Linked DNA regions of Homo sapiens: region 2 is linked to region 1. Evidence: fine-mapped expression QTL. Tissue or cell type: iPS cells. Region 1 holds a variant in brackets; the other region holds the start of a gene. All regions are shown on one strand. Distances are from middle to middle.

Region 1 (8,102 bases):
CTCCAAGCGCCCTGACCAGCCACACTTCCAGTCAGTCGGCGCCATCCGGGGACATGGGGCAGGCAGAGGAGCAAGGAAGTCCCTTTGCTGGGGGAGCCCAGAGCCCACCAGCTGAGGCAGGATACTTGGTGCATGTGGGGAGGCGGGGCTGGCGGAGCGTGAGCGGCCCCCGCTGGCCTCCAGCACCCAGCTGGTGCCGCGGCAGCCCTGTCCACTCCAGTGTCTGCATGGCGCCGCCTCCTTAGCCAGGCCTTACCTTCTGGCCGCATTTCCCCCACACCAGACCACCCCTTGGGCTGCAGCTGGACTGGCCTTGGTGAATGGCAGATCTCACTGTTCCCCTCCTCTGCCAGGTGCTAGGTAGAGCCTCACTGTGAATCTCATGGCTGGCCACAGCCTCACCCCGACCCCACCCCACCCCACCCCAGCACAGTGTGCTCTCCCTGAGCCCCTTTCCATAGCAGTGCTGTTGCTGCAGTGCCGAGCTTTGCCCATGCTGTCCAGAGCTTGTTTGGCCAGTGGCCCCAGCCCCCGTCTGCGCCTGAGCCCTTTGTGTCCTTCCTGCCCCCTGGTCAGAGTAGTTCCCTCTGTATCCCTGGCAGCCCCTGTGCTATCCTAAGCCTGGGCATGTGCCTCTTGCCCTTGTTGGTCAGAGCAAAATGCCTTTTCCCAGCTTGTTGCCCAACCTCCAGCACAGGCCTCAGTCTGCCCCCTGGGTCTTGTCCAAGGTGACTGATTAACTATGTAGTGACATGCACGGACCCTCTTCCCTCAGCTCCCAGCCAAATGGTCTGGGATGCCCGGCCTGGCGCAGATCCTGGCCTGTTCACTGGCTTCAGGCCAGAGGTGTTGTCAGGCCTGGTCCTGGCTGCGTCCCGCACTTGCCCAGTCCCCCAGAGTCTTGCCTCAGTTTCTTCCTTTGCAGTGAAACTAATGATATTGAGGGCAACAACAGCCAGCTCAGGCGCAGTGGCTCCCATCTGTAATCCCAGCACTTTGGGAAGCTGAGGCAACTGGATCACTTGAGCCCGGGAGTTCAAGGCCAGCCTGGGCAACATTCGTGAAACCCCATCTCTACAAAAAATACAAAGTTAGCCGGGTGTGGTGGTGTGTACCTGTGGTCCCAGCTACTTGGGAGGATGAGGTAGGAGGACCACCTGAGCCTGGGAAGTCGAGGATGCAGGGAGCCATGATTCCAGGACTGTACTCCAGCCTGGGCAACAAAGAGAGGCCCTGTCTCAAGAAAAAAACAACCAGCCTGGCGCGGTGGCTCACGCCTATAATCCCAGCACTTTGGGAGGCCGAGGTGGGAGGATCACGAGGTCAGGAGATCAAGACCATCCTGGCTAACATGGTGAAACCCTGTCTCTACTAAAAATACAAAAAATTAGCTGGGCATGGTGGTGGGCGTCTGTAGTCCCAGCTACTCGGGAGGCTGAGGCAGGAGAATGGCGTGAACTCGGGAGGCGGAGCTTGCAGTGAGCCGAGATCGCACCACTGCACTCCAGCCTGGGTGACAGAGCGAGACTCCGTCTCAAAAAAAAAAGAAAAAGAAAAAGAAAAAAAGCAACCAAAAAAACAATGGCTAGCCATTTACTTATGATCCAGATTGGACTCTAGTGGGCCAGTCCTATGTGGCCACTGGCAGCCAGTAAGGATTCCCTGGCCTATGTCTGCTGGAAGGGCCCTTGGAGAGCCTGGCTGAGGGGGCCTTCATTCTGGCCAGCTCTGGGCTGTGTGGCGTTGGGTGCCTGGCTCTCTGAGCCTCTCGCACCTCCCATCCCCACCCACGGTGTGCAGAAGGCAGAGGGCTAATGTCTCTCTTGCTGAGTCGTTGTGCAAATTAACAAAAATGAGTCTGGCACCAAAATGGCCCCCACACTTGGAAAACAGGCCAAGAGGCATCCACCGACCTGCTGACCCCTCTTTCCCCGCAGGCCCAACAGCGCCCTGGAATCCTGCTCCTTCGCCCGCCACAGTCTGCTGCAGACGCTGTACAAGGTCTAGACTCAAAGCCTCTCCCATCCCTTGGCCTGGACCAGTGAGCTGGGGAGGGACTCGGATGAACTGAGGCGCAGCCTACGCCATTGCCTTGGACAGGACTCTGGCCACAGGCAGGGCGGGTCTGTGTCCCATGTGTCCTGTCAGTCCCCTGAGTATGTGTGTGGGTGTGGCGCATGTGCAGGTCTGTGCCTCCTGTCGGGATTTGGGTTTTAACGTCTTCTGCTGGCCCAGCCCTGCTCTGTTGTGGGGAGTTGGCCCCCAGGGGAAAGGGCTGTGAGCTGCTCCGCCATTAAACTCACCTCCACCTGAGGGCGCTCTGCTGATCTCCGCCTGGGCCCTGATGGCCGTCCCCACCCACCTGCCTTCCGGCCCGGCTCCCTGGCGGAGCCAGAACCCAGGGAGTTGCCCGCGTGCTGTCCTTCCCCTCTGTGTTGTGATTGGGTTGTTTCCTGCCCTGCCTGGGGCTGCTTCTCGTCACCAAGCCCTGGTCCTGCGGCAGCTGTCACCCCTACCATCCATACCACTGTGCTGACCGCTCAGCCTGAAGAGCAGAGAATGCCATGGGTGGGACTGTGGGGGTCGGATCGTGGGGTTGTTGGCAGAGGGCAACCCTGGGCCCCACACCGTGTGGACAGGCAGACACCAGATTGTCCAGGAGCAGGAGCTGCTGGGACTGCGCTGGCCCCGGACCTAGTGGGCCTTCTCCTGGCTGCTGAGATGTCGTCTGTGACTGGCCTGGCTGGAGGGGGAGTGTTGACAACCCAAAGCTGTTCTCCAGTCTGGGGAGGGAGAGGCAGGGTCCCCAATGTCCGAGCTGCATCTGGACGCTGCTCTTAAAGGACCTCCTGGGGCAGGGGAGCGGTAGGGTCTGGACTGGGCAGATGCTGTATGACCTCCCTGAGCACCCGTGACTGCCCCATGCTTTCCCCTTTGTGCTCTGTGTGTGTCTGGGCTGTGCCCGGGGGCTTCACAAATAAAGTCGTGTGGCAGCTTCAGAGACTCAGAAACTCTCACTGAAAGCGGGATAGTCTCGGGGGCCGTTGTACGTGGAGTCCCACCTCGGCAGAGCATGCGGCCCCGCAGCAGTCTGTGGGGCAGTCAGCCCTGCAGAAGGGCCCGGCCTCGGCCTCAGGCCACTACCTGGGAAGTGGCAGTCCTGAGTGGGGGCCCATTTTCCTGCCTGGCCACACCTCACCCAGCACCCTGCCTTTGGGCTGCAGCTCGCTTGGCTTCTGCGTTGCTCCTTCACTATGGAAGCCACCTCCCTTGGGATCCTTTGCTCCACTGCCACATATGTGAGGACAGCCCAGCCAACCTTCCTTACCTCCTACCCTACACCATGTATGTGCTTTGGGAGCCCATGTCCCCCACAAACGGCCTCCAAGAAGTCCCTCCAAGGTTTCTTAGAGGGCAATATTTTCTCATTGGCAGTCGGCCACGTAGGTGACCAGGTGGCAGAGGATACTGCTGGCCCTGTCCCCTGTCTTCTGTGTGAGTTGATACGGTAGGGGGTGGGTGTGGGGCTGGCATTAAGTTCTGATGCCAGCTACAACGTGGATGAACTTTGAAAACATGTTAAATGAAATAAGCCAGACACAAAAGGACAAATATGATTCCATTTAGATGAGGCATCTAGAATAAGCAAATTCAGAGACAAGAAGGTAGAGGTTGCCAGGGCTAGGGGAAGGGTGGAATAGGGAGTGAGGCTGCAAACAGATTCTCTGGGATGATGAAGATGTTCTGGAAATGGAGAGTGGTGATGGTTGCATAACATTGTGAATGTACTTAATGCACTGAATTGTACACATAAAAATGGTTAAAATGATAGATTTCATGTATTAATATATTTTACCTCAGTTAATGTTTTAAAAATTAAGCAAAACTATAGAGCTTCACCCGGGTGTGGTGGCTCACGCCTGTAGTAATCCTAGCACTTTGGGAGGACGAGGCGGGCAGATCACTTGAGCCCAGGAATTCAAGACTGGCCTGGCCAACATGGCAAAACCCTGTCTCTACTAAAAATACAAAAATGAGCTGGGTGTGGTGATGCATGCCTGTAGTCTCAGCTACTTGGGAACCTGAGGTGGGAGGATCACCTGAGCCCAAGAAGTGGATGCTGCAGCAAGCCGTGATCGTGCCACTGCACTCCAGCATGACTGACAGCGAGACCCTGTCTCAAAAAAGAGAGAGAGAGCTTGTAGGAGATAGTGTAAGTGAGTATCTTCAAGGCCTTAGGAGTGAGGAAAAGATGAATAAATTAAGCTGTATTTAACCTCCTTTGCCATTATCGTGGGATGTTCACACAATGGAAATGATGTAGCAGTGAGAACAGGTTTCTGTTTATCAAAATACTCATTAAGGAGTACAAAGGCAACTTACAGACAGGGAGAAAATAATTGCCTAAACTCTCTCTGTATATATATATGGGTGGGGGGGATAACTTTAATTTTTTTCAAACAGGGTCTCATGTTGCCCAGCTTCTATCTCGGCTCACTGCAGCCTCTACCCCCCGGGCTCAGGTGATCCTCCCAGAGAAACATAATCACAGTGTGACACTCTTATGCCCTCACTAGAATGGCTAAAATACAAAATACAGTACCAAGTTTGGTGAGGATTTGGGGCAACTGGAGTGGCTGGCAGATGTGTAAATTGGTACAACCTTTTTTTTTTTTTTTTTTTTTTT[TG/G]AGACAGGGTCTTGCCATGTCACCCAGGCTGGGGTGCAGTGGTGTGATCACAGCTCACTGCAGCCTCGACCTCCTGGGCTCACTTAGTCTTCGTGCCTCAGCCTCCCAAGTAGCTGGGACCATGTCACAAGCCACCACGTTCAGCTTTTTTTTGTAAAGACAGGGTCTCATTGTGTTGTCCAGGCTGGTCTTGAATTATTGGGCTCAAGTGATCCTCCCGCCTCAGCTCACTTAACAGGCATGAACCACCATGCCCGGCTACAGTGCTCTTTCTAATAAACCCATGCTGGAAACAACCCAAATGTCTATCACTAGAGGAATGGGTAAGCTACTTGTGGTACGGTGTGGTACCGAGAAGGTAGGAATGGTCTGCCCAAGAAGAAATATTTTAGCATTGACATTGTTTAGACTTGTCAGCACATGATAATAAAAAGCAGAGACCAACTTTAAGTCAGTTCCATTGTGTCTCACTTCTCCACTGACAGCACACCCGCTTACTGCCTGCATTGTGGGCAGACTGCCTCCCGCCCCTGCCCCATGCCACTGTTGTCATATATTTATAGAATGGAAGGCTGGAATGCTGAATTTAAAAAAAAAATTAAAATAGATGAAGCCGGGTGCGGGCTCACACCTGTAAATCCTAGGACTTTGGGAGGTTGAGGCGGGCGGATCACTTGAGGTCAGGAGTTTGTGACCTGCCTGGCCAATATGGTGAGACCCGTCTCTACTAAAAATACAAAAATTAGCTGGGTGTGGTGGCGGGTGCCTGTAATCCCAGCTACTCGGGAAGCTGAAGCAGAATTCCTTGAACCTGGGAGGCGGAGGTTGCAGTGAGCTGAGATCACGCCACTGTACTCTAGCCTGGGCAACGAGAGCTAGACTCCGTCTCAAAAAAAAAATAAAAAGATGATTCTCACTAACATAATATTGAGTGGAAAACGCCAGACACAGCCAGGTGCAGTGGCTCATGCCTGTAATCCTAACGCTTTGGGAGGCCGAGGTGGGAGGATCACTTGTGCCCCGGAGTTCAAGACCAGCCTGGACAACATAGCAAGACCCCAACTCTACAACAAATTTTAAAACCAGCTGGAGGTGGCGGTGCATATCTGGAGGTCCCAGCTGCTTGGGAGGCTGGTATGTCAAGGCCGCAGTGAGCCATGATCACACTTCACTCACACCTGGGCAACAGTGAGACCCTGTCTCAAAAAAAGGACGAAAGAGCACACTGAAGTTCCATTGATTGGAATTTGCCAAGCAAAAAAAGCACAAAGCAGATGGCTGTGTGGCATGGCACTATTTCTTTTTTTAAAATGTTACTGCAGGGCTGGGCGTGGTGACTCATGCCTGTAATCCCAGCACTTTGGGAGATCAAGGCGGGCAGATCACTTGAGGTCAGGAGTTCGGGACCGGCCTGGCCAACATGGCGAAACCCCGTCTCTACTAAAAATGCAAAAATTAACCAGATGTGGTGGTACACATCTGTCATCCCAGCTACTTGGGAAGCTGAGGCAGGAGAATCGCATGAACCAGGGAGGTGGAGGTTGCAGTGAGCTCCAGCCTGGGCGATAAAGTGAGACTCTGTCTCAAAAAACAAAAAACTCCTGCAGTCTAGGAAAAGTACACACAGATGTTCATTGTTTAACATATATAAATATATATAAACATATACATTTATATTTTTATTATATATAAATATATACACACATAAGTGTATACACACACACATACATATATATATATATATATATATATATATATATATATATATATATATATATGTATATATTTTTTTTCTTTTTTGAGACAGTTTCACTCTGTTGCCCAGGCTAGAGTGCAGTGGCGCCATCTCGGCTCTCGCGTTCATGCCATTTGCCTGCCTCAGCCTCCCAAGTAGCTGGGACTACAGGCGCCTGCCACCACACCCGGCTAATTTTTTGTACTTTTAGTAGAGATAGGGTTTCACTGTGTTAGCCAGGATGGTCTTGATCTCGACCTCGTGATCCACCCGCCTCCGCCTCCCAAAGTGCTGGGATTACAGGCGTGAGCCACCGCGCCCGGCCTTTTTTTTTTCTCTTGAGACAGAGTCTGTGTTGCCCAGGCTGGTCTCAAACTCCTGGGCTCAAGTGATCCTCCCACCTCAGCCTCCCAAAGTGCTGGGATTACAGGCATGAGCCACTGTGCCTGACCCCTGTTTCCAATTAAAGGAACAAACAGTAGAAGATGCAATTCCATCAGAAGCAGGAATCTGAAAAATCAAGATACATGAACATTGGCCATGGTCTGGATGTATTATTTAAAAAACAAACACGAGCTTGGGAAGATGCGTATTTGGATATTCTTTGCAATATTGTTTGTAAATAGCAAAAAATTGGAGGTAGCCAATGTCCAAGATGAATGGCTAAGTCAATGTGATACATTTACACAATGGAATACTATATACCACAGAATAATGAGATTCGGAAGAGTCAATTTGGATAACTCCCAGTAATCTGAGGTTAAGTGAAAAAAATGAGTGTCTAGAATCCTGTGTGTCCAGTATTAAACTATTTATGTCAATGTGTAAGCACAAACGGAAGGAAAGGGTCACCTGTTCTGAAGCACCCACTGTGTGCCAGGTGCGGGCCTGAACCCCCACTGTGACCTCAGAGCTACTTATTAATGGGATGTGTTTTTCAGAGACTAGGAAGCAGCCTCTGGGAGGGCAGCCCACATGGCAGGAGGGAGCCCAGGACTGCTGACTCCCGGGCCAGCTGCTGGTGCCCCCTCCCTGTCGGGCTGGCCCAAGGATTCAGGCCGGGGCCTCAGTCCTCGGCTGGGGCAGGCAGGAGGCCCTGTAACTCCAGCCGCTGCTCCCGCCCGCCGCCCGCCCCTTCTTCACCTCAGCCTGGGGAAGCCTGGCTTGCCTGGTCTGCCGACAATGCCTCCCATTCAGCCCTGTCCCAGCTGCCAGGCCTGCGGGCCGTGGAGGGGGGCTCCTGCCAGGCGGGGACAGCCTGTCCCTGCGCTGCGCCTCCAGGCTGGACCAGCAGTTCCAGGCGGCATGGAGGGGTGAGTCTTTGGGCCCGATGGTGCAAGGGGGGATTCAGAGCAGCTCAGTGGCCTCAGGTAAGTCTCTGCCCCCTCTGGGCCTCTCAGAGGCTGGCGGGCAGGGGCTCTGGGGACTTCCTGGGGTTCTCCAGGAAGGGGGTCTCCCAAGGTGGGCTCTGAGACACGTGGCAATGTGGCCACTGCCAGGAACTGGTCCTCTGGGGCTTGTCTGAGAGCCCAGCAGTGGTCCCTGCATTATGAATGCTTGTCGCTTCAGCGATCTGTCCCCATGGGTCCCCTCCCTGGCCTGCCCTGAGGCACAGCCTTCACCACAGGCTCTGGAGAAGCCACCAACTCCAACGCAGGGGCTGGAGCCTGGGACCCAAA
Region 2 (8,102 bases), 42 kb before region 1:
AGGAGAATCGTTTGAACCCGGGAGGCAGAGGTTACAGTGAGCCTTGATTGTGCCATTGCACTCCAGCCTGGGTGACAGAGTGAGACTCCATCTCAAAAAAAAAAAAAAAAAAGTAATAATAATAATAGAAAAGGACCCTAGAGACCTGTCTTCTATTCTCTTTCTCTCTCTCTCTCTCTCTCTTTTTTTTTTTTCTTTGAGACAGGGTCTTGTTCTATCATTCAGGCTGGAGTGCAGTGGCCTGACCATGGCTCACTGCAACCAACCTCCACGTTCTGGGCTCAAGGATCCTCCTGCATCAGCCTCCCTAGTAGCTGGGACTCCAAGTATGTACCACCATGCCTGGCTAATTGTTTTTAGTAGAGACAGAGTCTCACTATATTGCCCAGACTGGTCTCAAATCCTGGGCTTTAGCAATCTTCCTGCCTTGGCCTCCCACAGTGCTGGCATTACAGTTGGTTGTGAGCCACCATGCTCAGCCTTGTCTCATGTGTAAGTCACACTGTAACTTGGGCCTTAGTTCTTCATTTGTTGAAATAAGGAACAAGATAGTCTTGGATGACACTATCCATCTGTCAAAGGCCATGATTACACTTCTTGGGCCAGGCAGACTAGCTCTCAGGTGATAACTTGAAAGAGAGAAAGCTGGAGAAAGGGCTGGAAGGAGAAAGAGAGAAGATAAGTGTGTTGCTTGGAAACAGTGATGATTCTTTTTTTTGAGGCAGAATTTTGCTCTTGTTGCCTAGGCTGGAGTGCAATGGCGTGATCTCAGCTCACTGCAACCTCCGCCTCTTGGGTTCAAGAGATTCTCCTGCCCCAGCCTCCCGAGTAGCTGGGATTACAGGTGTCTGCCACCATGCCCAGCTAATTTTTTGTATTTTTAGTAGAGACAGGGTTTCACCATGTTGGCCAGGCTGGTCTCGAATTCCTGACGTCAGATGATCCACCTGCCTCGCCCTCCCGAAGTGCTGGGATTACAGGCATGAGCCACTGTGCCCGGCCAGAAACAGTGATGATTCTTGATTCTTCTGATTCACTGGGCACCCTTGGGCAAACCCCCTGTTCCTTTTCAAACCCCAGTCTCCCCATTTGTAAAGAGGTTTAAGATAGATTCAGGAGGCCGGCCACAGTGGCTCACGCCTGTACTGTACTCCCAGCACTTTGGGAGGCCGAGGTAAGTGGATCACCAGGTCAGGAGTTTGAGACCATCCTGGCCAATATGGTGAAACCGTCTCTACTAAAAATACAAAAATTAGCCGGGCGTGGTGGCGTGCACCTGTAGTCCCAGCTACTCGGGAGGCTGAGGCAGAAGAATCACTTGAACCTGGGAGGCGGAGGTTGCAGTGAGCTGAGATCGCACCACTGCACTCCAGCCTGAGCAACAGAGTGAAACTCCATCTCAAAAAAAAAAAAAAAAAAAATCAGGATATAGGAGTGACAGAATCCAGATTGCTAGGGGGTGCTGTCAGGCTGAGTTTGTGATTTTTAGCTTCGAATGTGAACACCTTCAGGCAGAACATCCACTCTCTAACTCCCCCCAAGCCCCACCAAGCCCCGACAAGCCCCATGACTTCCTGTTACCTCCCAGGTCCTTGAAGGCCACTGAATTTCTGTTGTCTAAGAATTCCCTTCCAGTTCCGAAAACCCAATGTCCTATCAGCTGGATGAGGACGGGATCAGCTAAGATGTTCCCCTGCCCACCTTCCTCTTCCCTTTGGGAGGTCTCTGTGTGAGGGCCAAGGAAAGTCTCAAGAAGTAAAATTGGAAAAGGGAGCCTGCGGATCACCCCAAGGAAAATCCAGACTGATTCGATCAGTCCTAGCTGGAAGCAGCACAGGAATAGCAGGAAGCCTATGACTCATTTTAAGCAAACATCCGGTAACCCGACTGGTATCTGGTTCAAATGGGGAAACCTGAAGCACCTATGACAGGCCAGGCCCAGAGAAGATACTGCCCAGATGGATACAGCGTCTGCTCTGGAGACCCTCCCAGGCTGAGGAGGAAACTGCCAAGAACAGTGTTAACTCTGTCAAAGAGCCCCAGAGTCCCAGGCCAACTGCTGTGGGGCTTTGCATCTTGCTGTGGGCACCTGCAGGAGGGAGAGACTCATGAAGTAGCATTTGACATGGGCCTTGTAGGTAAAAAGGAGAGGGAAGGTGGAAAGAGGATCCACATCTCAGGAACTTTGAGAACTGGGAGAGTTACACTCTGTCTAGAGCTTCAGTTTTCTCATCTCTGTGCTGGGAAGGGTGGTAATGATGCCCACTTCCCTTGTGGTGGTGAAGATTAAATGAGCTGTGTGTAAAAGGATATGGCATGATCTGTTAATTAATTAATTAATTTATTTATTTATTTAGAGACGGAGTTTCGCTCTTGTTGCCCAGGCTGGAGTGCAATGGTGCGTCTCGGCTCACTGCAACCTCCGCCTCCCGGGTTCAAGCGATTCTTCTGCCTCAGCCTCCCGAGTAGCTGGGATTCCAGGCATGCGTCACCATGCCCAGCTAATTTTATATTTTTAGTAGAGACGGGGTTTCTCCATTTTGGTCAGGCTGGTCTCAAACTCCTGACCTCAGGTGATCCGCCCGCCTCGGCCTCCCAAAGTGCTGGGATTACAGGTGTGAGCCACTGCGCCCAGCCTGCATGATCTGTTTAACTTTTTTTTTTTTTCTTTTTTCAGTTTTTGAGACAAGGTCTTGCTCTGTCGCCAGGGCTGAAATGCAGTGGTGCAATCACGGCTCACTGCAGCCTCAAGCTCCCAGGCTCCAGATCCTCCTGCCTCAGGCCCTTAGCTGAGACTACAGGCTTGCACCATCACGTCCAACTAATTTTTGTATTTTTTGTCGAGACAGGGTTTGACCATGTTGCCCAGGCTGGTCTCACACTCTCTCGCCTATAATCCCAACACTTTGGGAGGCCAAGATGGGCAACAAGAGTGAAACTCCATCTCAAAAAAAAAAAACAAAAAAAAAACGCTGTTTGTGTTTTTATGCTTAAATTCACACCTACAGAAAAGTTGCAAAAATGTTCAAAGAACTCCCATATTCTTCAACCAGATTAACTGATTAACATTTTGCCACATTTGTGTCTCTGCTTTCTCTATGTATATGTATAGGTATATTTCTTTTAACCATAAAGGTTGCAGACATCATGTCCTTTTTGTCCCTAATTATTTCAGCATTTTTTTCCAAGAACAAGGGCAGTCTCTTACATAACCCTGTACCATAATCAAAATTAATAAATTTAACATTGATACAATACTATTATCTAATATAGTCAAGTTTTGCTGTTTCAGTATTGTCCTTTATAGCAATCCCCACCCAGGATCCGATCCAGGACCATGTCTTGCATTCAGTTGTCTTTTTCGTTTCCTGTAATCGGCAACAGTTCCTCAGTTTTTCTTTGTCTTACATAATACAGACATTTCCGGAAGGGTACAGATCAGTTATTCTGTACCATGTCCCTCAGCTTGGGTTTCTCATGATTAGACTAAGGTCATGCATTATAGACCGGACGGTGACGCCGTGTTTTTCTCAGTGCATCACACAGAAAGCGTGCGATGAATGTCAGCTTGTCCTGCTGTTGATGTTAACGTGGCCGTTCAAGTGGTGTCTGCGGAGCTTCTCTACGATAGTTACTATTTCCCCTTTTTAATTATCAGGTAATTTGTGCATATTTATGTGGAAGCCTTCGAATGCCCTTTCAGTTTCATGGGACGGAAAAGAGTCTTTTCTTTCGGGAAATGGATACCTGTGTCTTGCCCAAGAGACCCAGCAGCCAGCAGTACCTGTTATCAACAAAGTTACGCGAACAAAACCTTTCCGGAAGAGCTGAGGGACCTGGGTGCAACGCATTCTGGGAATTGTAGTCTCTGGGCGCTCCCGGCTGAACACCTCCCTGCGGTCTCTGCGAGAAAGAGCCAGAAGCCACCAGGGGAGGGCGAAGAGGAGGGCGGTGGAGGACGCTCTGCGCGCGGTGCGCCATGGGACGGGTAGTTCGCGGTGCGCGCCCCATCGCGCTCCCAGATGGGGAACCGGACTACTCTACCCGAGAGGCCGCGCGAGCGGGGCGAGGGCAAGCCGGCCGGGGCCTCGAACAAATCAAATCGAAGCAAAGAAACTGCCGGCTTTCAAAATCCTCCTCCTCCGCCATCATCCGCCGCGGTGCGGAGAGCAGGTGGTGCTGGAAGCGCGTGAGGCCGGGAGCTCGAGAGAGCTAACAGACTAGCCGGCTGGACATCTGGACCGCTGGATCCGGAGGTGGCGACCCCGGCCTGACCCGGACCCTAAATCCGTCCCCGCCCCAGAGGGCGGAGGCGCGCGCTCGATTCCCCCCACGCGGCGGCGCCGCCTGTTTACGGTAGAGTCAGGGTCCCTTTCCTTTCCCCGTCACCTGCCTGGAACAGGGGTGCGGGGCGAGGAGGGCGTGGCGCCCGTGTGCGCCTTCTGCCTGCCCCCTCGGCCTTCTTCACTTAGCCTTCGACGGCCGAGCGCCCCAGGGGTGGCGGTGGGAGTGGGGTTGTTGAGCGGCGCTGGCTCCTTTCACAAATGGGGAAACTGAGGCTTAAAGGGCGTCTGACTCGCCAGAGCAGCTCAGCCTGCAGCTGCTAGCAGTGGCGTCTCATATTAGCATTGTTGTCAACCGGAGGCGGTGCGAGTCCGCCGGGGATTCCAGATGGGGCTCCTGCGCCGCCCGCCTATCATTTGCGGCCTGTATTCGCGCGTCGCTCCCGCAGAGCCACCTCCCAGCAGGCCCACGCCCGCGGGGGCCCCGGGCTGGCGCCGCTGTCCCTGGAATCGATGTGAGTCACTGCTGACGCTTTGCAGGAGCATGCATCTCACCTCAGAAAGTCTCTGACGTTGCTGCGGAGCGGGGAGAGGATGTTTCTCTATTAGCCCTTTGCTTTTGCTCTGGCGCTGATCCTTTGCTGACCTTGGACAAATCAATTTACGTTTCTGTGCTCCAGTTTCTTGGTTTATAAAGTGAGTGTGGAGGGGTGCATCTCTGTCTCGCTCTCTCTTGGACTGAGGAATGGGCCCCCGTTCAGCTGAGAAGTTCTGTCCCTATTCTATCTGGAGGCTTCACCACCACCTTTTACCCTCAAATTGTCCCATCTCAGAACTGCAAGAGATGCTGGGGTTTCAGGTTAATTTTTTTGTTGGTTTTTCTTTAAATTTTTTTATCTTTTTAGAGACGGTCTCCTTCTGTCACCCAGGCTGGAGTGTAGTGGAACGATCACCGCTGAACTGCAGCGTCGGCTTCCTGGGCTCAAGCGATCCTCCCACCTCAACCTCCCAAGTCATGGGGACTACAGATGCCATCACACCTGGCTAATTTTTAAATTTTTCTGTGGAGACAGGGTCTCATTCTGTTGCCCAGGCTTGTCTCGAACCCTGGTCTAAAGTGATCTTCCCGCCTAGCCTCCCAAAATGTTGGAATTACAGGTGTGAGTTATTGCACTGGGCTGGTTTCTGGTTAATTTATTTTTTGAAACAGGGTCTCCAGAAGTACAGCAGCAAGATCTCAGCTCACTGTAGCCTCCACCTACGGGGCTCAAGTGATCCTCCCACCTTACATCCCAGGTAGCTGGGACTGCAGGCACCTGCCACCACACCCAGCTAGTTTTTGTATTTTTAGTGGAGACAGGGTTTCGGCATACTGCCCAGGCTGGTTTCTAACTCCTGTGCTCAATCGATCCGCCCACCTCAGCCTCCGGAAATGCTGGGATTGCAGGAGTGAACCATTACACCCGACTCTGGTTAATTTTTTTTTTTTTTGAGACGGAGTTTCACTCTTGTTGCCCACGTTGGAGTGCAATGCCACGATCTCAGCTCACCCCAACATCTGCCTCCCAGATTCAAGCGATTCTCCTGCCTCAGCCTCCTGAGTAGCTGGGATTACAGGCATGTGCCACCACGCCCGGTTAATTTTGTATTTTTGGTAGAGACAGGGTTTCTCCATGTTGGCCAGGGTGGTCTCGAACTCCCGACCTCAGGTAATCCACCCACCTCAGCCTCCCAAAGTGCTGAGATTATAGGCGTGAGCTACCGCACCCGGCCTGGTTAATTTTTATTTTATTTTATTTTATTTTATTTTTTTGAGGTGAGTCTCGCTCTGTTGCCCAGGCTGGAGTGCAGTGGCGCAATCTCAGCTCACTGCAAGCTCCACCTACCGGGTTCATGCCATTCTCTTGCCTCAGCCTCCCGAGTAGCTGGGACTACAGGCCCCCGCCACCAGGCCCGGCTAATTTTTTGTATTTTTAGTGGAGACGGGTTTCACCGTGTTAGCCAGGATGGTCTCGATCTCCTGACCTCGTGATCCGCCCACCTCAGCCTCCCAAAGTACTAGGATTATAGGTGTGAGCCTTTGCGCCCGGCCCTGGCCTGGTTAATTTTTATGCAATTTCAACTGGTCGTTTCTTGAGCACCTTCTAAATGCCAGGCTCTATGTGGCAAGTAGAGTGATCCTGTCAAAATGTACGTCAGATGACATCTGCTTTCTGCTAAAAACTTCAGTGGTTTTCCTTGTCACTTATAGCGAAAGCCACTGTTCTTCAAATGGGCTTTATGACTTGGGCCCCTTGTTAACTGTCTCTTCTCTTACCTTGTTTTTTTCCTCTCTCTCTGTGCTTCAGCCCCACTGGCCCTGTTGCAGTTTCTCCAACCCTCTGCCCCTACAAGAGCCATTGCATTTGCTATTCCCTTTGCAGGAATCATGTTCCCCCAGATGTGTGCATGGCCCAATCCCTGATATCTTTATTTAACTATTTCCTAATAATGCCTTTTTGTTGTTGTTGTTAATGCCTTTTTGTTGTTGTTGTTGTTATTTGTTTGTTTTGAGTTGGAGTCTTGCTCTGTCGCCAGGCTGGAATGCAATGGCGCGATCTTGGCTCACTGCAACCTCCGCCTCCCGGGTTCAAGCAATTCTCCTGCCTCAACCTCCCGAGTAGCTGGGACTAAAGGCGTGTGCCACCACGCCCAGCTAATTTTTGTATTTTTAGTAGAGACGGGGTTTCACCATGTTGGCCTGGCTGGTCTTGAACTCCTGACCTCGTGATCCACCTGCCTCGGTCTCCCAAAGTGCTGAGATTACAGCCGTGAACCACCACTCCCGGCCCCCCAACCCCCCCCTTTTTTTTTTAAATCACATACTAAATGTGTCATTTAGAACATATGCTTCAAGAGGTCAGGGTTTATGCTTCCTTTACTGCTATACTGCTGACCTGGAACAACATCCAGCACACAGTAGTAATCAATGTGTTTTTGAATGAATGAGTGGACACCTTACCCAGGATAATAATTCATGCTTATTGATAAAGGCAGACAAACCAGGGTTATAAGTTAGAACCCAGAGGAAGCCTAGGGGTGGGAGGATTCAGGGTATCACAACTGTATCTGAGAATGAGGAGGTTGTAGGAGGAGGCCTTTCGGATAGCACCCCCTAGTTCTGCCCCTCATATCTGCTTCCTTGGTCTCTCCTGATTACTTGCTGTTTCTTTTCTTTTTTTGGAGCATCTCACAGATACGTTTATTCATACCACAAAGTAAACACTATTCAGGTATGTAGTGATGTTCCACGTTCCTGTCTAATATAGCTGGCTTCAATTTATAGGCAGTACACATTGAGACATTTAATCTCACATGTACTCCAAGTAAAGCTGGAGTACCATGAGCAGGCGCAGGAGTTCTCAAAGCTTTACTTGTTTTAAAAATTTTCATTTATTGGCCAAGCGTGGTGGCTCATGCGTGTAATCCCAGCACTTTGGGAGGCTGAGGCGAGTGGATCACGAGGTCAGGAGATCGAGACCATCCTGGCTAACACACGGTGAAACCCTGTCTCTACTAAAAATACAAAAAAATTAGCTGGACATGGTGGTGGGTGCCTGTAATCCCAGCTACTCAGGAGGCTGAGGCAGGAGAATGACATGAACCTTGGAGGCGGAGCTTGCAGTGAGCCCAGATGGCGCCACTGTGCTCCAGCCTGGGCGACTGAGCGAGACTCCGTCTCAAAAAAAAAAAATTCTTTCATTTATTTAGTTACTTTTAGAGATAGAGCCTCCCGCTGTTGCCCAGGCTGGAGTGCAGTGGCAGTCATAGCTTACTGCA

Direction of the effects. Positions count from the first base shown, and alleles are read on the strand shown. Sizes are in standard deviations (SD) of each study's normalised expression.
For the expression in iPS cells of the gene that starts at base 4,155 in region 2, allele G in region 1 goes with a higher level than allele TG (moderate effect, 0.42 SD a copy in HipSci).

The links. PIP is the estimated chance that this variant, and not a neighbour inherited with it, causes the effect.
Region 2: it holds the start of RANGAP1, and the variant in region 1 is fine-mapped to the expression of RANGAP1 in iPS cells (HipSci, PIP 0.92).

What each region holds. Positions count from the first base shown.
Region 1 is chr22:41,240,508-41,248,609 of GRCh38, reverse strand. It overlaps CHADL (chondroadherin like), which reads left to right and starts at 7,679. Exons shown (of 6, transcript NM_138481.2): 1 at 7,679-7,736. The coding sequence starts at 7,729. It overlaps RANGAP1 (Ran GTPase activating protein 1), which reads left to right. Exons shown (of 16, transcript NM_002883.4): 16 at 1,938-3,831. The coding sequence ends at 2,007. RefSeq lists enhancers at 7,075-7,575, 7,576-8,076. The variant TG/G (reference allele first, on the strand shown) is at 4,688.
Region 2 is chr22:41,282,240-41,290,341 of GRCh38, reverse strand. It overlaps RANGAP1 (Ran GTPase activating protein 1), which reads left to right and starts at 4,155. Exons shown (of 16, transcript NM_002883.4): 1 at 4,155-4,356. RefSeq lists enhancers at 153-752, 3,263-3,312, 3,633-3,702, 3,733-3,952, 4,383-4,452.